Regions from separate parts of the Homo sapiens genome. Here region 2 is linked to region 1. Evidence: fine-mapped expression QTL. A gene starts in region 1. The other region holds a variant in brackets. All regions are shown on one strand. Distances are from middle to middle.

Region 1 (10,641 bases):
ACATAGGTCAAATAGCAGAGTTTGCCCTCGGTGTCCAAGGTCAGGAAGCGGGCATTGCTGGGCACCATCCGCCGCCAGGCCATCACCCTGAGCAGCACCAGGTTGGCAGCCTCTGAGATGAAGCCCTTGATTGAGCTCCAGGGGAAAGAAGTCACTCCAGTCTTCACTTCCTGTTCAGAACTGATCTGGGTCAGGGTCCTGGAACCAGGAAGGGGCAGGGGACAGGAGGGTGGGCAAGCCAGGTGTTGGGCATACGGTTTTGTTTTTTTTTGAGACAGAGTTTCGCTTTTTGTCACCCAGGCTGGAGTGCAATGGCGTGGTCTCAGCTCACTGCAACCTCCGCCTCCTTGGTTCAAGCGATCTCCTGCCTCAGCCTTTCAAGTAGCAGGGATTACAGGCTACCATGCCTGGCTAAATTTTGTAATTTTAGTAGAGACCGGATTTCACCATGTTGGCCAGGCTAGTCTTGAACTCCTGACCTGAGGTGATAGGCCCCCTCTGCCTCCCAAAGTGTTGGGATTACAGGCGTGAGCCTTTTTTTTTTTTTTTTTTGAGACAGGGTCTTGCTCTGTTGCCCAGACTGGAGTGCAGTGGTGCGATCTCAGCTCACTGCAACCTCCAGCTCCCAGGTTCAAGCGACTTTCCTGCCTCAGCCTCCTGAGTAGCTGGGATTACAGGCTCACGACACTACGCCCAGCTAATTTTTGTATTTTTATTAGAGGGGATTTCACCATATTGGCCAGGCTGGTCTCCACTCCTGACCTCAAGTGATCCGCCCGCCTTGGCCTCCCAAAGTGCTGAAATTACAGGCGTGAGTCACCACACGCCTGGCCTTCAGCCGGTCATATGGTTTTTAATGAATGAATCCTTGTCTTTTTTTTTTTTCCTTTTTCTGGAGAACGGGGTCTCGCTATATTGCCCAGGCAAGTCTCGAACTCCTAGGCTCAAGCTATCCTCCTGCCTCTTGCTTCTGAGAGCTGGGATTACAGGCGTGAGCCACCGCGCCCAGCCTAATGAATGAATCGTTAGTCTGGACTCCTGGCTTCATCTAATCTGGTCCCCGCTCAGAGTTCTGAAGAGGACATTGTGAAAGAAAAATAAATCTTGGGACCCCAAATCACTAAGCCAAAGGGAAGTCAAGCTGGGAACTGCCTCAGGCAAAGCTGCCTCCCATTTTATTCCTAAACAAGGTAGCTACTAAGAGAAAAAAAAGCTATATAACTCCCTCACTATTTGCCCACAAGGAAATTCCTTGTGGACAAAGGACAGACAGAACTCAAAGTCATCCCTCTGCTCACGTGAGATAAATGCATATCTGATGGCTTTCTCTGCTCTATTGTTTCACTAAGCCAGAGTAAGGCATAAGTGACTACTTTTCTAACCCCCATAGCATGTAAATTGTGTATTCAGTGAAAGGCTAATCGGAAACTTAAAAGCATGTCTCTTATCTACCTATGACTTGGAAGCCCCCTCCCTGCCTCGAGTTGTCCTGCCTTTTCCAATGAACCAATGTACATCTTTTTTTTTTTTTGAGACGGAGTCTTGCTCTGTCGCCCAGGCTGGAGTGCAGTGGCGTGATCTCAGCTTAGTGCAAGCTCCACTTCCCGGGTTCACGCCGTTCTCCTGCCTCACCCTCCCGAGTAGCTGGGACTACAGGCGCCTGCCACCACGCCTGGCTAATTTTTTGTATTTTTACGTCTGGTGAACCAGTGTACATCTTACACGTGTTGATTGATGTTTCGTGTCTCCTTAAAATGTATAAAACCAAGCTGTAGGCTGGGCGTGGTGGCTCACGCCTGTAATCCCAGCACTTTGGGAGGCTGAGGCGGGCGGATCACCTGAGGTCGGGAGTTTGAGACCAGCCTGGCCAACAGGGATGAAACTCCCTCTCTACTAAAAATACAGAATTAGCCGGGCGTGGTGGTGCATGCCCATAATCCCAGCTACTCGGGAGGCTGAGGCAGGAGAATCACTTGAACCCGGGAGGTGGCGGTTGCAGTGAGCCGAGATCACGTCATTGCACTCCAGCCTCTGCAACAAATGTGAAACTCTGTCTCAAAAAAAAAAAAAAAAAACAAGCTGTGCCCCAACCACTTTGGGCCCATTTCCTCAGGACCTCCTGAGGCTGTGTCATGTGCGCGTCCTTAACCTTGGCAAAATAAACTCTCTAAATTGATCTGGACCTGTCTCAGATATTCTGGGTTCACAGTGTGTAGTGCAACTCCCATCTGGCTCTCATCCTTACCTCACCCTCCTTGATACTTCTGGTCACAGCCAGCTGATCATCCTGCTTCAGCAAACTCATCTTCCGTTCCATGGGGAGGATGAGGAACTGAGGGCCAGAGCATGCGGGGGAGGATCAGGGACTCCCTGGGTCCCCCAGAGGTCACCTGACCCTTCTCCATTAATGAGAAAACTGAGGTTTAAAGATTGTGACTTAAAAAAAAAGCAGCCGGGCCGGGCACAGTGGCTCACGCCTGTAATCCTAGCACTGTGGGAGGCCGAGGTGGGCGGATCACGAGGTCAGGAGATTGAGACCACCCTGGCTAACACGGTGAAACCCCGTCTCTACTAAAAATACAAAAATTAGCTGGGTGTGGTGGCACATGCCTGTAGTCTCAGCTACTTGGGAGGCTGAGGCAGAAGAATTGCTTGAACCCGGAGGCGGAGGTTGCAGTGAGCCGAGATCGCACCACTACACTCCAGCCTGGGCAACAGGCTGTTTTTGAGACTCCATCTCAAAAACAAACAAACAAACAAACAAAAAACCAAGCAGCAGGGCCAGGTGTTGTGGCTCATGCCTGTAATCCCAGCACTTTGGGAGGCCCAGGCGGGCAGATCACTTGAGGTCAGGAGTTCAAGACCAGCCTGGCCAACATGGCAAAACCCCATCTCTATTAAAGATACAAAAATTAACCAGGTGTGGTGGTGCATGTCTGTAATTCCCAGCTACTTGGGAGGCTGAGACAGGAGAATTGCTTGAACCCGGAAGGTGAAGGTTGCAGTGAGCTAGATTGCACCACTGCATTCCAGCCTGGGTGATAAGAGCAAGACTCTGTCTCAAAAATAATAATAATAATAAAATAAAAAAAAAAAAGCAGCAGCAACAAAAACCAAAAAACACCTTTCATACACAGTGAAGCTGAAGAATAGCAGTCGTGTTATGATGCAATATAAAGTTCAAAAACAGTGCACTTCAGAACACTGGTTTTAAAAGATGGGGGTGGGCCAGGTGCAGGGACAGCAGGTTGCCACTGATAAGTTCTCCTGATACCCAAACTCTGAACCCAGCCCACACCAGCCCTCCTCCAGCCTGAGAGCCCAGTGCCTCCCTGGAGGCCTGGTGGGCTGGCCTTTCCCAGAGCCTAGCCTTCCCTGGGGGCCTGTTTCACCTGGCCTCCAAGTCTCCCAGCTCTGTGCCCCTCACACCCAGCCCCAGCCACTTAATTAACTTGTGGAATGTGAACATGACCTGTTTACACACTGGAAACTACTCAAGTCTAAAAACCTTCCCACAGAAACCAGAAACCATCCCCAACATTTTTTTTTTTTTTTTTTTTTTTGAGACAGAGTCTCGCTCTGTTGCCCAGGCTGGAGTGCAGTGGTGTGATCCTGGCTTACTGCGACCTTCGCCTCCTGGGTTCAAGCAATTCTCCTGTCTCAGCCTCCCGTGTAGCTGGGATTACAGGTGCCCACCACCATGCCTGGATAATTTTCTTTTTGTATTTTTAGTAGAGGTAGGGTTTCACCATCTTGGCCAGGCTGGTCTTGAACTCCTGACCTCATGATCCACCTGCCTCGGCATCCCAAAGTGTTGGGATTACAGGTGTGAGCCACTGCGCCCGGCTAATTTTGTGTTTTTAGTAGAGACAGGGTTTCTCCATGTTGGTCAGGCTGGTCTTCAACTCCCGACCTCAGGTGATCCGCCTGCCTCAGCCTCCCAAATTGCTGGGATTACAGGCGTGAGCCACCGTGCCCAACCTACATCTTTTTTCTTCTTTTTTCTTTTTTTTTTTTTTTTGAGACAGGGTCTCATTCTGTCACCCAGGCTGGAGTACAGTGGCACGCACATTGCTCACTGCAGTCTTGACCTCCTGGGCTCCGCTGAACCTTCCACCTCAGCCTCCCAAGTAGCTGGGACTACAGACACACATTACCACACCCAGCTACTTTTTGTATTTTTTGTACAAAATTTATAAACATTTTTGGTGGGTTTTGCCATGTTGCCCAGGCTCAAACTCCTGGGCTCAAGGGATCCTCCCACTTTGGCCTCCCAAAGTGCTGGGATTATAGGCTTGAGCCATTGTGCCTGGCCCACCCTCATTGTTTTTTAATTTTTTTCTTGAGACGGAGTCTTGCTCTGTCACCCAGGCTGGAGTGCAGTGGCGCGATCTCGGCTCACGGCAATCTCTGCCTCCTGGGTTCAAGCGATTCTCCTGCCTCAGCCTTCTGAGTAGCTGGGACTACAGGCGTGCACCACCATGCCTGGCTAATTTTTGTACAGATGAGGTTTCGCTATGTTGGCCAGGCTGGTCTCGAACTCCTGACCTCAGGGTGATCCGCCCACCTCTGCCTCCCAAAGTGCTGGGATTACAGGTGTGAACCACTGTGCCCAGCCCACCCCCGTGTTTTAAAATCAGTTTTCTGAAGTGCGTTGCTTTTGAGCTTTACATTGCATCATAACACGATTGCTATTCTTCAGCTTCACTGTGTATGTAATAGGTTTTTTGGTTTGTTGTTGCTGCTGTTTTTTAAGTCAAAATCTGTCTTCTCTCCCCTGGATTGGGTCAAGGCTGGGGCCCTGGGAAGTACCTTGATGAAGTCTTGGCTGTGCTGTTCCATGAGCTCCAGCTTCTCTGAGAGATAGCCTGGGGTGCAGGGACACAGGCATTGACGTCACAGGAGATGTGGGTCAGAGGCTGAAGGAAGGGAAGGTGGTGGCGCAGCTGGAGGACTAGGTGTAATACGGTCCCAGAAAAACTACAGGATGGGTAAGATGTGCCCTCATCCCGAGTCCATGAGGAACTCGCTCATCCCTCTCCCACCCCGTGCCTTGTCCTGGTCCAAGGCAAAGCCAAGGGCTTGGTCCTGAAAAAAGATTCTAGGAATTGGTGGAGGGGAGGGTTGGAGGAAGGGGAGAGTGACGGGCATCAGGCAGTAGGAACGCTACCCAGGAGGGAATTTCCGCAGAGCATTTTGTCCAAGAAGCCTCGGCTAGAGGCATGCACGAAGAGGCAGTATGTCAGCATGCCGAGTTTTTCCTGGTATTTCCCTCTCTGCACCTCAATGGTCAGCTCTCCCTGAGGCTCCCCGGTGTCTGAGACCATGGCCAGCGTCTCAGAGAAGAACAGCATCTGTAGCTCCTCCTTGTCTGGGGTGAGGGGCCCGTGGGAACAGATAAAGCCCCTGCTCCTGGGCCCCAATCCAATCCTCTGACCCCATGACCACCAGTGTCCCCACAGTCCCCACCTGCCTCCTCATCCCACAGCCTTCCTCACTGGCACGGACAGGTGAAGACTCCTGCCCCATGTCCCCATGTCCCCGGGGGGCCTTCCCTTGAAGAATGTCAACAAACAGGCCTCAGGCCTTTTCTGAGTCCCAGGAGAATCAAGGAAGAGAGAGAGAGAGAGAGAGAGAGAGAGAGACTGGACTTTCTTCCCTCCTCTCCAGACTTGCACCCCTCCCGCACCCCCAACCCCGACACTGTCTGAGCTCACGGAGGGAGCTGAGGAAGTCGATGGCTTCAGCATTGGCCTCTGGGAGTGGCAGACACTCCGGACCCGAGGGCTGGTGGTCCTTAGCTCTGGAGCCTACAGAGGGATGAGAGGCTAAGATGGCAGACCCTGGGGAGAAGGGCAGGGGTCAGGGAGGCAAGGCAGGGTACCTCAGTCCTGGCCCCAGCACCCAAGAACAGAATCCTCTAAGACTACCCCGAGGGTGGATTGGGAAGAAAGAAGAGGATCCCCGCCTCCAGCCCCAGCAGTCCTCTTCCCACCTGTGGAGTAAACCTTGGAGGACATGCTGTGGGCCTGCCTCTACCCGGTCTGTGTCCAGCTGTCTCCATGGCAACCAGAGCTGGACAGTGCCTCTTAAAGGGCCATCAACCCACTTTACTACACCCAGACCTTGGAGGGAACTGACACTGCAGGTTTGGGGCTCAGCACAAGCTTGAGGTGTTGTCCAGCAGAGGGAGCATTTGATATATATTTTTTTCTTTTTTGAGACGCAATCTCGCTCTGTCACCCAGGCTGGAGTGCAGTGGCGCATTCTCATCTCACTGCAACCTCTGCCTCCCGGGTTCAAGCAATTCTTCTTGAGGTCTCAGCCTCCCGAGTAGCTGGGACTACAGGCGCACACCACCGCGCCCAGCTAATTTTTGTATTTTTAGTAGAGATGGGGTTTCACCATATTGGCCAGGCTGGTCTTGAATTCCTGAGCTCGTGATCCTCCTGCCTCAGCCTCCCAGAGTGCTGGGATTACAGGTGTGAGCCACCGCGCCTGGCCCACATTTGATATTCTTAAGAGGCAGAGTGAAGAAATGGGTCATTAGAATGACCTTAGAAGAGGCCAGGTGTGGTGGCTCACACCTGTAATCCCAGCACTTTGGGAGTCCCAGGCAGGTGGATCACTTGAGGCCAGGAGTTTGAGATCCAGCCTGGCCAACATGGTGAAACCCATCTCTACTAAAAATACAAAAATTACCAGGGAGTGGTGGCACATGCCTGTAATCTGTCTCAAAAAAAAAAAAATGACCTTAGAAGATATGAACGAAAGTCAGACAGAGTCTCAAATGCACACTATCCAATTAGCTGCTACATGAATATCTCTGCAAGTTACAGTTCTAATACATGTAACAATAATGATAACAACAATGACAACATAGCAAACTCTTTGACTGGACTTATTCCTGGTGAGGCGCTTTTTTTTTTTTTTTTAGAGAGTCTCACTCTGTTGCCAGTCTGGAGTGCAGTGGCGCCATCTTGGCTCACTGCAACCTCTGCCTCCTGGGTTCAAGTGATTCTCCTACCTCAGCCTCCTGAGTAGCTGGAACTACAGGAGTGTGCCACCATGCCCAGCTAATTTTTGTATTTTTATTTTTATTATTTTTATTTATTTATTTGTTTGTTTTAATTATTTTTGAGAAAGAGTCTCACTCTGTCACCCAGGCTAGAATGCAGTGGCATGATCTCAGCTGCAACCTCCTCCTGCCAGGTTCAAGTGATTCTCCTGCCTCAGTCTCCCAAGTAGCTGGGACTACAGGCACCCGCCACCACACCTGGCTAATTTTTGTATTTTTAGTAGAGATGGGGTTTCACCATGTTGGCCAGGCTGGTCTTGAACTCCTGAGCTCAAGTGATCCACCTGTAGAGTCCAGCCCTACGGGGCTTAGCGGGTGTTCTCCCTGTGTGTGGAGACGAGAGATTGTAATAAATAAAGACACAAGACAAAGAGACAAAGAGAAAACAGCTGGGCCCGGGAGACCACTACCATCAAGACATGGAGACTGGTAGTGGCCCAGAACGGCTGGGCGCGCTGATATTTATTGCACACAAGACAAGGGGGCACGGTAAGGAGGGCGAGTCTTCTAAGTGATTGACAAGGTGAAGCAAGTCACATGATCACAGGACAGGGGGCCCTTCCCTCTTAGGTAGCCGAAGCAGAGAGAGAGACGGCAGCATACATCAGCGTTTTCTTCTATGCACTTATAAGAAGGATCAAAGACTTTAGGACTTTCACTATTTCTTCTACCGCCATCTACTACAAACTTCAAAGAGGAACCAGGAGTACGGCAGGAACATGAAAGTGGACAAGGAGCGTGACCTTTGGAGCACAGCACCACAGGGAGGGGTTTAGGCCTCCGGATGGCTGCGGGCAGGCCTGGATAATATCCAACCTTCCACAAGAAGCTGGTGGAGCGGAGTGTTCCCTGACTCCTCCAAGGAAAGGTGACTCCCTTTCGCGGTCTGCTAAGTAATGGGCGTCTTCCCAAACACTGGCACTACCGCTTGACCAAGGAGCCCTCAAGTGGTCCTTATGGGGGCGTGACAGAGGGCTCACCTCTTGCCTTCTAGGTCACTTCTCACAATGTCACTTCAGCACCTGACCCTATACCCGCCGGTTATTCCTAGGTTATATTAGTAATGCAACAAAGAGTAATATTAAAAGCTAATGATTAATAATGTTTATAATAATGATTGATAATTATCCATGATCATCTCTATATCTACTTTGTATTATGACTATTCTTATTCTAACTATTTTCTTTATTATACTGAAACCGTCTGTGCCTTCAGTCTCTTGCCTCGGCACCTGGGTAATCCTCTGCCCACACTTCCTTGGTCTTAGACCTGCGGGCCTCCGCCTGGTCAGCCAGGAGCTTCTTGTAGGCCTTGTCTGCTTTCAGCTTGTGGATGTGTTCCAGGATAATCCGCTTGTTTTTGAACACATTCCCCTTCACCTTCAGGTACAGGCTGTGATACATGTGGCGATCAATCTTCTTAGATTCACGGTATCTTCTGAGTAGCCAGCACAGAATCCTCATTCTCCTTATCCACGTGACCTCTGGCATTCGGACGTTGGCTGTACCCTTCCGCTTACCTATGCCCGTGTGCCTGCCCTTCCGGGAGGCCAAGGTGTTTTTCTGGCATGGAGCCTGGGAATGGACCATCACAGGCTTGCCGATGATCAGCCCATCTTTGATTAGCTTTCGGATCTGCTGATGGGAGCTGGCATTGGCGATTTCATTGGTCTCACTGGGGTCCAACCAGACCTTCTTGCCACAGCAGAGGACACTAGAAGCGAACCTCTTCTAAAGCCTGAGCATATTTATGGCTGCGGCTGCAGCAGCGAAAGGAAAGAACTCTGTTATTTCAGGTTCTTAAAATGTTTAAAATTGGTATATTAGAGTGCTTAAAAGATACGTCTGCAGATTCAAGTTTAAATTGGGTTATTGAATAATTGATTTTGAATTTTAAAGTTTCTTATTGAGATTGCAAGTAGAACCAGAACATTAAAAAAAATAAAATTAAGATTTACTGTATTTATATGTTTACTTTTATTAGGTTGCAGTAAAGGTATTTGGGAGGCTGGTTTATCAATCAATCGCTTTAAAAAAGGAAATAAAATATATTGGATGAACAACTGCAGTATAAGCTGCCTAAAGCAGTTTTAATTTTGAAAAGAAGACCAACCAATTATTAATTAAAGCCCCCTTGGCTGGGTGCAGGGGCTTACACCTGTAATCCCATGGGAGGCCAAGGTGGGTGGATGATTTGAAGCCAGGAGTTGAAGACCAGCCTGGGCAACATAGTGAGACCCTGTTTCTAAAAAATGTTAACATTCACTAGATTTATGATGAGAATTATATGACTGGTAAGTTGAACTTAAAAGTTTTAAAAATACTTTTGTTTGTTTGTTTGAGACAGTCTCGCTCTGTCCCCCAGGCTGGAGTGCAGTGGCTCAATCTCGGCTCACTGCAAGCTCTGCCTCCCGGGTTCACGCCATTCTCCTGCCTCTCAGCCTCCTGAGTAACTGGGACTACAGGCGCCTGCCACCACACCTGGCTAATTTTTTTGTATTTTTAGTAGAGACAGGGTTTCACCACGTTAGCCAGGATGGTCTTGATCTCCTGACCTCGTGATCCGCCCGCCTCAGCCTCCCAAAGTGCTGGGATTACAGGCGTGAGCCACCGTGCCCAGCCAATACTTATGTTTTAAAATTTATATTTTCCTATTCAACATAGTATTGGAAGTTCTGGCCAGAGCAGTCAGGCAAGAGAAAGAAAAAAAGGGCATTCAAATAAGAAGAGAGGAAGTCAAACTATCCCTGTTTGAAGATGACATGATCCTATATCTAGAAAACCCCATCATCTCAGCCCAAAAGCTTCTTAAGCTCATTAGCAACTTCAGCAAAGTCTCAGGATACAAAATCAACGTGCAAAAATCGCTAGCATTCCTATATACCAACAACAGGCAAGCAGAGAGCCAATTCATGAACGAACTCCCATTCACTATTGCCACAAAAAGAATAAACTACCTAGGAATACAGCTAACAAGGAAAGTGAAAGATCTCTACAAGGATAACTACAAACCACTGTGCAGAGGACTCAGAGATGACACAAACAAATGGAAAACCATTCCACGCTCATGGATAGGAAGAATCAATATCATAAAATGGCCATACTAGTCAAAGCAATTTATAGATTCAGTGCTGTCCCCATTAAACTACAATTGTCATTCTTCACAAAACTAGAAAAAACTATTTTAAAATTAATATCAGATGAAAAAAGAGCCCAAATAGCTAAAGCAATCCTAAGCAAAAAGAATAAAGCTGCATCCATCACGCTACCTGACTTCAAACTACACTACAGGGCCACAGTAACCAAACAGCATGGTACTGGTAAAAGAACAGACACATAACTTTGTAACAGGTCTGGAAGCTCTGAGTTTATCTTGGGACCTCAAGAGAGGATCACCCAACTCACAGGTGTTAGAGGATACAAACCCATGGCTGGGCTTGGCTTTAAAAGTCTTATCTGAAATTCCTTGTGAAACAGAGTTTCATTAAAGCCAATGCAAAAGGCCTATGTAAGTAAAAATAACCATTCTTGCTGCACTTTACGCAAATAATCAGGCCAAGTAT
Region 2 (10,641 bases), 37 kb before region 1:
GCGCGGCTAGGCGGACTGGGAGGCGGGCCGGGCCGGGTTCCTGCCGCGCTCCAGGGGGCGTCGCCTCCCTTCCTGCCGCCCGCCGGCGGGGCTGAGTCTCTGCGGCTGCGTGGCAGGCCCGGCACCCGGCTCACCGTTCCAGGCCGCCGAGCGCCCTCGGCCAAGGCCCGCCCGCCGGGAGCGCCCACGCCGGGGAGTGCCCGAGTGCGGCGCGGCTCCACCTCTGCGTTTTCTGAAGACCCGGGACTAGAGGCTTCTCGGTTTCCTCGTTGAGGACTTGGAGATAGCACTACCTCATCTGTAAAATGGGTCTTCTCTCCTGTCTGGTGGTCGCAGAGATCACCTCGCAAGGACGTCAAGAGCCAGCGAAGGCTCTGCTGGCCCGAAACAGCTGTGCAAACCTCAGAATCACGCTCTTGAATGGGACGGTCGCCGCCCCCCGCAGCCCCAGGGCGAGGTGCCCCCGGTCTGTAGGACGTGAAATTCTAACTCTCTGCCCTGGGAAAGCCCCCTGCCGACCTCTCCCCACGGCCCCACCCGGGGCCCCGCACGTCTACCCGCCGCGCACGGGCCACCGCGCGTTCCCGCCTGAAGTTTTCGTACGCGCTGTTCCTTTCGCGTAGCCAAATTCCACCGACCTCGAGGAAATGCCACCTTCTCCAGGGGCCTTCCCAGACCCCCTCCCCTGCCCGCGGTCGACGGCCGCCCTGTGATTACTGGGGGTGCGGTGGGAGTCACTGGACTCGCTGCCGATCCTAGGAGCCCAGCACGGCGCCGCACGCGGTGGGCCCAAAGCCCGACCGTGGGGGACCTCAAACCAGAGGCCCTCAAGGCCCGTTCCACCCGGCCTGTGGCGCAGTGCTGGGCACTTGGGAACGGAGGTCCCTGTCTTCTCGCTGCAAGCCCCTCCGTGGTGCGCGCCGTGGGTCTGCGGGTTGGTCTTTTTCCTCGTTTATGAAGTTCTTTTCACTCGTCGTTACTATTTTGTAAGTTCACCATTTAAAAATTAATAATGCCAAGCCCGACAAACACCCCTCGGCACTTCCTCCCCTCCCCCTCTCCCGCGGGCCTCCGTGGCGGGGCGGGGCGGGCGCGTCCTGTCCCGTCCGGCCGCCGGGTGCGACGCGGCGCACGTCCGCCAGGCCCTGCCGAGGGGGAGCCGGGGAGGGGAGGCCCCGCGCGGGGGCCGGGAGGGGAAGGGAGGGGAGCGGCGTCTGCCAGAAGGCGCGGCGGCTTCGTGCGCTGAGGCTGGGAGTAGGGGCGGGAGGGGACTGTCGGGGACTGATACCCCGGTCCCCGGGCTGGATCCCTCGGCCCTCCTCCTGCTCCTGGGTAGCCCACGGGGCGGCCACCATTGCGCTTCATCACCGTGATCGCCACACGCTGCTGGCGTTTTCCTAGGCCTGCTCTGGCTGCGCCCCCTAATCTCATTTACCCCTTAGAACGGCCTCCTTCTTAACCCATTTCACAGATGAGGAAACTGAGTTTCAAGAAAGGAAGCGACGTGCTTCGGGTCTACCGGCAAGGGCAAAGGCGGGATTCCAGCCTGGGAGCGGGACATCTGTCTCCCCTGCGGTCCGGCCCCCTGGGTGGGGCCTCGGCTTTATCTCCGGATGCGGGGCCCTCATGACCCCAAAAGGAAGCGTGTGGCGAGGGACTGAGTGGAGTCGTGGCCTCGCCCTTGGCCTGGGTTGGGTGGCGCGCTTTCCTCTCCCTCTGTGAAGGGGGCTGGTACCTGGCCGGCTGTCCCCACACCCACCATTCCCAGACGCGCCATCCTGAGCTCACAGGATTCCTCAGGAATCCCCCACCTCCTCCACCCCATCTTATCGCCACTTCAAGCCGTTGCCCGTGCAGTTCTTTTCCCAGGGAGACCTAACTCCTCCTCCCAGGCTCCCAAAGCGGCAGAGGTAGCCGCGCCTTCTGCCTGGAGCCCTGGACTTATCTCCCCACGCCTGGGGCGGGTAGTTAGTTACGGAGTGAGCGAGAGGCCAGGATTGCGTGGGGGGAGGGGGGTCCTTCGAGTGTCCTCACTGTAGGGGTTGTCTACACCCAGCTGCCCTCTGTCTCTACAGGTGGAGGTCGCTTTATGCACTCTATTTTTTGTCTGTTTTATCATTCGCACCCCAGGAAAAATAAAATCATGGGGGCCACAAGTCAGAAACGGGGAGGGGCAGGAACGGGATTCAGCAAGGTGCTGTCTGGCACCTGTGGATTTGGAAGCGTCTCTTCCAACACAGTCCCTCAGTTTCCCCATCTGCCAAACAGGGCTGGTAAAAGCCCAACCCAGGGGGAGGCGGGGAGCCGTGCACAAAGTCGGGGTGCATTCAGCAGGCTCTTGGGGAGTGCCAAGTGCGACCACGCCCTCCCTGGGAGGCCTAAAGGGAGCTTCCAGAAGAGCAACTCTGCACCCCTCTTCCTGGAGGGTCGATTTGAGGCCAGGCTGGAAGAACCAGAGCTACTATGGGGGGAATGGGGGCAGCTCTAAGTAGACGCCTTCCAGTGTCCAAATGACTGACCTTGGCGCGACCTCATCACTAGCCCTTTGCCCAGGTCCTGGGTAGCCCTTTAGCCGGGTCTCCGTGTCTTCTTGACCAACCTGCCCATTACTCTGCCGTCCCCCGTCCTGCCCCACAAGATCTAAGACGTCCCCAGAAAGCTTCAGGTCTTGGCAGATGTGCACACACGTGCCCCCATGCTCCTGGCACTCTCATTCCTCCTGGGCTGTCCTGTCAACACTCCCCCCTACCGCCGACCCCCCCTTCAGCAAGATTCAGTCCCCTTCCCTGGCTGGCGTCACGGGCAGCGCCCTTCACCGCATCCTGCCACAGGGACTTGTTTGCACAGCTGTCTCCCGCCGCTGGAGTGTGGGGTCCTTGAGAACTGACATCTTTAATTCGGGACTTTGCCGCCCTCCCCAACTTGTAACACAGAGCCTGGCAGAGGACTGGCACTCAATGCCAAGAGGGGTGTGTAGGGGGTACAACGGGGGCACTTCCAGGAGGCTAAAGGATCTGGGAGATGCCTTTCTTCGCTAAACGTCCCCCATCCATCTCCTCCTTCAGCTGGCATGGACCCATCTTCTCCAGTGCCAAACCCAGAGGAGGCGGGCGGCCCTCTTGCCCAGGTACCCTCTGCAGCGCTTGCCCAGGTCGCACCAGACCGGTCCCATCTCTTCTCTCCTTGAGGGACCCACTCGCATCGTTGCCCTTTTAAGAAAGAGGAAATTCTTCTCATAAACAAGCGTCCGGACCTGAGCGCGGAGCCAGGCCGCCTGCCCTGCTGGGTCCCCAGGAAATCGGGGGTTCTTCCAGGTGCAACACCCGGCCCAGGTTCAACTCTAGGGAAAGGCCTGTTGGCCTCTCCTCGCTGCGGCCCTCCGCAGGTCCTGGGCTGGGGTCTGAGGGACCCGACGAGGCTGGAGGAGGGACTTGGGGGAGCCTAGAAACAGCCTAGGGAACGTCTATAAAGTGCAGCCCCTGAATGGGGCGAATGGGTGCCCAGCCGCTCCCTAAGGCAGAGGGGGCTCCCCGCCCACACAGCTTCCTCCCACCCACTCTCCCCGAAGGATTCTGGGGCCCCTGGCGCGAGCCCCGAGCGCCCGCCTCCCCGCGTCGTTCCGCCTGGCGGGGAGGGGTGAGGCCGGGGCGGGATGGCGGGCGTCGGGACCGTCTCTGCCCCTAGGGGGAGCAGTCAGCAGAGAGGGAGCGGTAACGGCGCGGCGTGGGAGTCGCGGCCGCCGGCTCCCCTGAGGAAACAGCAAATAATTTGGGCCTCAGAGGCACAGACTCTTGGGTTCCTTATGACCTGGTGCCTGACGGAGAAAGAAGTGCGCCGCCGTTTTACTGTCTGGAAAATGGGTTGCAGGCGGAACAGAAAGGCTGCGGCGAATAGGAGCGGACCAGACCCTGGTGTAGGGGTCTTCTGGATGCTTTAGAGACTTCGTGCCTTCCCGGTTCCCATTCCCTGCTCCTTTGGACGAGAAGGGAACTAGTATTTATTTAACTTTAATCAGGCCGGGTTTGGTGGCTCACGCCTGTAATTCCCAGCACTTTGGGAGACGGAGATGGGCGGATCACTTGAATCCAGCAGTTCGAGACCAGCCTGGCCAGCATGGCAAACCCCGTCTCTGCTGAAAATACACAAATTAGCTGGGCGTGGTGGCGCGCGCCACTCCCGGGGCTGAATAAAGAGAATCGCTTGAACCCAGAAGGTGGAGGTTGCAATGAGTTAAGATTGCGCCACTGCACTCCAGCCTTGGCAACAGAGGGAGACCCTTTCCCTGTCTCAAATAAATAAATAAATAGATAGATAGATAATTTAACATTCATCAGACACTATTTCAAGCTCCAGTTTGGAGCCTGTGTCCCGCCCAAGTCCTCAAGCCCTCACCCCACCCACCCTTGGGCTGTCAGGTCACGCCTGCAGGTGCTCAATAAATACCTTTTGAAATGTTTTTCGTTTGTTTGTTTTTGTCCCAAGTGCCAGACACTGTGTTAAAGTGCTTAACCTCCATGGCAAGGGTGGTGGTGTCTCCATTTTACAGATGAGGACACTGAGACCCAGAGGGTAATCACATGGCTGCGCTAGGAAACAGCAGGTCCCTAAAGCCCCCAGGTTGGCTGGTCTCAGGAACTGTCCCACTCTATCCTGCTGCCTGCACGCGCCCCCTC[CACAT/T]CCAGCAGGCCAGTCACGTCATACATGCCACTCCCAGCCAGGCCCTGGTGTGGGCCTAGCCAGAGGTCTCCCCTTTCTGGTCCTCTTCAAGGAGCCCATACAGGAAGTGGTGGTGGGAGCTGTGGGCCAGAAAGGTGGCTCCGTGGGCAAGGCAACAGGTCCAGACCTGGGGGAGGGGCAACCATGAATTGGGGAGATGCCAAGACCTCTGGGGAAGCCCCATTGTGTCCCCCCAAACCCTCCCCATTGGTTGCCTCTTGTCCTTCCCTCATCCATTCCCAAGGCATCCCCTGGCCCTACTGTACCAGGTAGGTGCTGAGGCCCAGGTAGGCTGCGGCCAGCAAGGCTGCAAGGCCGAAGTAGGCAGGGTGGGGCAGGCTGGGCAGATAGCTGACCACGAAGTAGAGGTTGATGGCGCAGACTAGCACCATGATGGAAGAGGTGACGACCTTGTTCAGCCTGGGGGACACGAGAGAGGCTCAGGACTGGCTGGTTGCTGCTGGCCCACCTGCATCAACTCCTCTTCATCTCCCAGCGCCCACACTGGGGGTGGGGATACACTGAGGCCGCTTCTCTGGTCTGTGGGACCTGGAGCAGACAGACCCCCTCCCCACCTCCTGCCTCCTGGGCCCTCCAGGCTACACACTGGCGGGATTTGGCAAGAGCTGAGTCTGAGGCGAGAGTGAGGCGCTCAGGCTCTAGAAACAGCCCTCTTCCCTGGATTCCAGTCTTGGCTCCTCAACTTGCTAGCTGTGTGAACCTGGGTAAGTCCCTTAACCTCTCTCAGCCTCTGTGGCTTCATTGGGATAATGGGGAGAATTGTAGCTCGTACCTCTGGGTGGCTGTGAGGATGAAATGTGGTGATGCAATCCAGCACTTGGGAAAGGGGGTACTCACAGGCCATTGGCAAACTCCTGCATGAGGGTGGGCATGCTGGTGAACGTGAGGATGGGCAGCACGGCGAACGGGAGCTGGGGAGAGCAGCAGGAGCCTAGGCTGAGGAATTCTGCCTCAGAATATGGCAAGGGTGGGGGCAAGATGGGCGTGGCTTGACACCCTCTGTGTGGGTGTGAGCTCAACTGCCCTAACCACACTGAGCCTACTTCCCCGTCTCCTGCCTTATCAGGTTGTGGGCTCCAAAGCAGGAGAAAGTGTTTGGGGGCTCTGGCACCAGGTTGCTTCGGTTTGAATCCAAGCCCTGCCACTAGTAACTTAACTGAGTGCATCAGTTTTCCCATCTGTAAAATGGAATAATGAGCCTGGGCAACAAACATAATGAGCTTTTGTCTCTACTTAAAAAAAAAAAAAAATTAGACCTGCCTCAGTGGCTCATGCCTGTAATCCTTGCACTTTGGGAGGCCAAGGCGGGTGGATCACCTGAGGTCAGGAGTTTGAGACTAGCCTGGCCAACATGATGAAACCCTGTCTCTACTAAAAATACAAAAAATTAGCTGGGTGTGATGGTGGGCGCTTGTAATCTCAGCTACTTAGGAGGCTGAGGCAGAAGAATCGCTTGAACCTGGGAGGCAGAGGTTGCAGTGAGCCAAGATCTCACCACTGCACTCTAGCCTGGGTAACAAGAGTGAAACTCCGTCTCAAAAAAAAAAAAAAAAAAATTAGCTGGGTGTGATGGCATGCACCTATAGTCCCTGCTACTCGGGAGCCTGAGGTGGGAAGATTGCTAGAGACAGGGAGGGCAGGCTGCAGTGAGCCATGATTGAACCACTGCACTCCAGCCTAGGTGACAGAGGGAGACCATCTGGGGGGTGGGAGGGGGGAAGGATAATGGTGATTCCTACCCTCCTGCCCCCCAGGGTGGCTGTGGGGACAATGGAAGCCTTGTAGGCAAGATGTGCCTGGGACAGGGCCTGGCAGGCCCATGCAAGGCTCAGCGTGGGGGTTGCTGGAGGTCCTGTTTCGCTCAGCAGTGGGCAGGGCTGGTGGGGTTGGCGCATCTCACCAGCAGGCTCTGCAGCACGTTGAGCAGATCATTGAGGCCCGACAAGTCCCTCAGGTCCCGGAAGACAGCCACGAGCACGGTGGGCAGGATGGCGCAGGAGCGGGTGAGGAGGACACGGGCGAAGCGTGACCACCGCAGCCTCAGGAAGCCCTGGGGTGGGGGTGAACTCCTTGGTGAGGAGTAGACAGGACTGGGGATTCCAGAGGAGAGATCCTCTGTAGTCCCTCAACCGATTTATCCCTGGGGGCATGCTCTGTTTTTCCACTGTTGAACTGGGACAGCTCTGTCCCTAGGTGGCAAGAGGGGATGGGTGGGGAGAAATGGGGAGCTCCCATCCCATAGCTGGTTGCTGAAGACTAAACAGTTTTGGGGAAAAGGCTTCTGTTAGTCCTGGGTCTGCAGCTTCCAGCAAGTCACCTCATCTGTCAGGATCTGTTTTCTCATCTGTAAAATGGGGCTTATAGTGTCGCCCTCTGGGCTACATGAAGGAAACAAAGCTGAGTGGGGTGGCTCACGTCTGTAATCCCAGCACTTTGGGAAGCCAAGGCGGGAAGATCACTTGAGCCCAGGAGTTCGAGACCAGCCTGGGAAACATAGGAAGACCACATCTCTACAAATAATTTTAAAAATTAGCCTGGTGTGGTGGCATGAGCCTGTAGTCCCAATGACTCGGGAGGCTGAAGTTGAGGCTGCAGCGAGCTGTGATGGCGCCATTGCACTCCAGCCTGAGCAACAGAGTGAAATCCTGTCTCAAAAAAGAAAGAAAGAGCCGGGCGCGGTGGCTCACGCCTGTAATCCCAGCACTTTGGGAGGCTGAGGAGGGCAGATCACCTGAGGCTGGGAGTTCGAGACCACCCTGACCAACATGGAGAAACCCCGTCTTTACTGAAAATACAAAATTAGCTGGGTGTGGTGGCCTGTAATCCCAGCTGGTCAGGAGGCTGAGGCAGGAGAATTGCTTGAACCCAGGAGGTGGAGGTTGCGGTGAGCCGGAGATCGCGCCATTGCACTCCAGCCTGGGCAATAAGAGCGAAACGCCGTCTCAAAAAAAAGGAAAGAAAGAAAGAAAAGAAAAGGCCGGACGCAGTGGCTCACGCCTATAATCCCAGCACTTCAGGAGTCCAAGGCGGGCGGATCACGAGGTCAAGAGTTTGAGACCAGCCTGGCCAACACAGCAAAACTGCGTCTCTACTAAAAATACAAAAATTGGCCGGGTGCGGTGGTTCACACCTGTAATTCCAGCACTTTGGGAGGCCAAGGCAGGCGGATCACTTGAGGTCAAGAGTTCAAGACTAGCCTGGCCAACATGGCGAAACCCTGTCTCTACTAAAAGTACAAAAATTAGCCAGGCCTGGTGGCAGGTGCCTGAAATCCCAGCTACTGAGGAGGCTGAAGCAGGAGAAGCTTGAACCTGGGAGGGGGAGGTTGCAGTGAGCCGAGATCGCGCCACTGCACTCCAGCCTGGGCGACAAGAGCGAGACTCCGTCTCAACAACAACAACAAAAACAAAAACAAAAAAAAAGGAAGAAAAGAAAGAAAAGAAAAGAGGACCCACAAGGCTCGGAGTTCTAGCCCCCAGTAGTGTGCCTGCTGTCCTTGGACCCCTTGCCCTCCTGGGCCCGCCCCCTGCCCTACCTCCATCACGAACTGTCCCGCGTAGGTGCCCGTCATGGTGGAGCTCTGCCCAGCCGCCAGGAGACCTATGGCCCAGATGTAGAGGGCCGCGGGGCCGAACAGGCAGCCCAGGATCACGCCCTGCAGGGACGAGTGTGGTAGGACCGGTGGCCCTGCCCGAGGCGGGGAGCCTCTCTGGGTCACGCCCTCCCCACCCACCCGCGCTCACCCCCTGGTAAATGTCCACGGCCACGGTGGCGTTGTTCATGGGGAAGATCTTGGCGTAGTCGTGGAGGCTGCTGTTGGCACAGATGTTGAACTGTGGGTACCAGGGCAGTAGAAGGAAGATGTGAGGAGCACGCTCAGCCTTGGGAAACTGGACTGCCTAGCACTGACCAGGGTTCCAAAACTGGTGGCCCAAGGCTGAATCTGGCCAGACATATTTTGTTTGGCTAACAAAATAAGTTGGGTTTTGTTTTGTTTTACTTTTACGTTTTGTAGCGATGGGGGTCTTGTCATGTTGCCCAGGTTGGTCTTGAACTCCCGGGCTCAAGCGAGCCATCTGCCTCAGCCTCCCAAAGTGCTGGGATTACAGGCGTGAGCCACCGCACCCGGCCGGGTTTTTTTTTTCTTTAATGTGGATTTGTTGCCAACATTTAAAATTGAGAAGGCCTGGCATAAGAACCCAGTTTCCAGCTTCTTTTAGGTTCGTAAGAGCTGGCATCACCACAGAGACAGCTGGCTGCCATGCCCTCTTCACACTGTCCACTTCCCACAACTCTGCGCCTGCCTGGTCTTGAAGACAAGGGTTTGCAGTCCTGATGTTGATCTCCCTCCTTGTGCCAAGGAACAGAGTGAGACCCAGGGAGGAGTGTGACCTCCCAAGGTCACAGAGCAAGGCAGTGGCAGTGCCCAGGTCCTTGGAGGCCTGGCCACCCCTTCTCCCACAGGGCTCAGCATTCAGGAAGCCCCCAACCCTGGCTGCAGTTGTTAGAGCCTCATGACTGAGATCCACTCAGAAGGGGAGACAGACACAGGTCCCAGATCCCAGAGAGTCAGGGAGGAGCTGGCTAGTTCCTTTTCCAGTATTAGCACAAATGTCATCTCTTCCAAGAAGCCTTTCCTGACCACCTGGGCTAATGCAGACCCCACCCCCATACCCCCAACTATGCTTCTTCACCCCCTTTATTTCTTCCCACTCTGTACTTCCCTTGGGTATTCATTCCTGTCTGCTCACCTCCCTCCCTATTTAAGCTGCAGAGAGCTGGGTCTTTGTAGCATTGACTGCTGTATCCCCAGGGTCTAGGATGTGCTTGGTATATAACAAATGCTCAATGATTATTTGCTGAATGAATGATATCTGCCAACAGGGAAGATCATCAGGGCAGAGACTCAGAAGGGCTCAGCTGCATTGCCTAGGGTCCTCGGCAAGGCTTACAGGACATGAGTACGTGTGTGGCCTCAGGTGCGGGGGAAAGTGTGTCTCACCGCAGCCTGGTTGGTTTTCTGGTAGAAGGCCTGCCCAAAGACAGCCATGACAAAGAGGTTGATGATAAAGGAGACGGACAGGGCGATGGTGGCCTCAATCAGGAAGTACATGTTGGCTTCTCTGATGTCTGCTCGGCGGGCCCGGTCTATCTCTCGAGACTACGAAGATCAAAGGGAGAGGGAAGTGCCAAAGTCCCTCAGAGCCACCACAGTGTCCCCCACCCTCACACTTCTATGTTCTCCCCAAAGCCCAGTACCTTCTTAAGTCCCCTGCGTGGCAGTCTGGGGCAGGTTCAGGTCAGCCGATGGTTTCCTACATCTCTGTTCTTGCCACAGAGGCCTTACCACTGTAAGCCACTGTGTGGGTGAAGCAAGGCTGGCCTTTGAGGTCCCTGGCTACCTCAGGTCCTGACACGCTCCTTCACTCACCTTGTTCCATCCTCAGACGTGTCCAGCTTACTTTATTTTATTTTTTAGAGACAGGTTTTGTTCTGTCACCCAGACTGGAGTGCCGTGGTGCAATGCATGGCTCACTGCAGCCTCCAACTCATGGGCCCAAGTGATCCTCCTGCCCCAGCCTCCTAAGTAGCTGGGACCACAGACACACACCACTACAACCCGCTAATTTTTAAATTTTCTGCAGAGACAGGGTCTTGCTAGGCTAGCCTTGAACTCCTGGGCTCAAGCATTCTCCTGTCTTGGCCTCTTAAAATGCTGAGATTACAGGTGTGAGCCACTGTTAAGCTGTTAGGGACCCAAGCCTTGTTCACTTCTGCCAGTGGCCTTTGCACTTGCTTTCCCTCCGCTTGTAATATCTTTTCCCTGATCTACTTCCCCAACTTTCAGTCATTCTCTATCATATTTCTCTGTTTTGTTTACTTCAGAGTCCCTTTCGCAATTAT

What was found.
Region 2: its variant is fine-mapped to the expression of CATIP in whole blood (TOPMed, PIP 0.96).

What each region holds. Positions count from the first base shown.
Region 1 is chr2:218,352,264-218,362,904 of GRCh38, reverse strand. CATIP (ciliogenesis associated TTC17 interacting protein) reads right to left here and starts at 6,048. Exons shown (of 10, transcript NM_198559.2): 1 at 5,996-6,048; 2 at 5,718-5,810; 3 at 5,171-5,371; 4 at 4,813-4,868; 5 at 2,246-2,332; 6 at 3-170. The coding sequence starts at 6,020. CATIP-AS2 (CATIP antisense RNA 2) reads left to right here and starts at 4,939. Exons shown (of 4, transcript NR_125777.1): 1 at 4,939-4,991. It also overlaps the pseudogene RPL19P5. RefSeq lists an enhancer at 5,642-6,153.
Region 2 is chr2:218,389,127-218,399,767 of GRCh38, reverse strand. SLC11A1 (solute carrier family 11 member 1) reads right to left here. Exons shown (of 15, transcript NM_000578.4): 9 at 9,740-9,898; 10 at 8,481-8,570; 11 at 8,273-8,392; 12 at 6,638-6,787; 13 at 5,575-5,648; 14 at 4,983-5,136; 15 at 2,874-4,843. The coding sequence ends at 4,733. It also overlaps a transcript of CTDSP1 not described here. Among named protein-coding and RNA genes, the nearest start is that of CTDSP1, 5.4 kb to the left of the region's middle. RefSeq lists silencers at 1-292, 983-1,252, 3,493-3,832 and enhancers at 3,213-3,342, 4,512-5,180, 5,181-5,849, 6,519-7,188. The variant CACAT/T (reference allele first, on the strand shown) is at 4,674.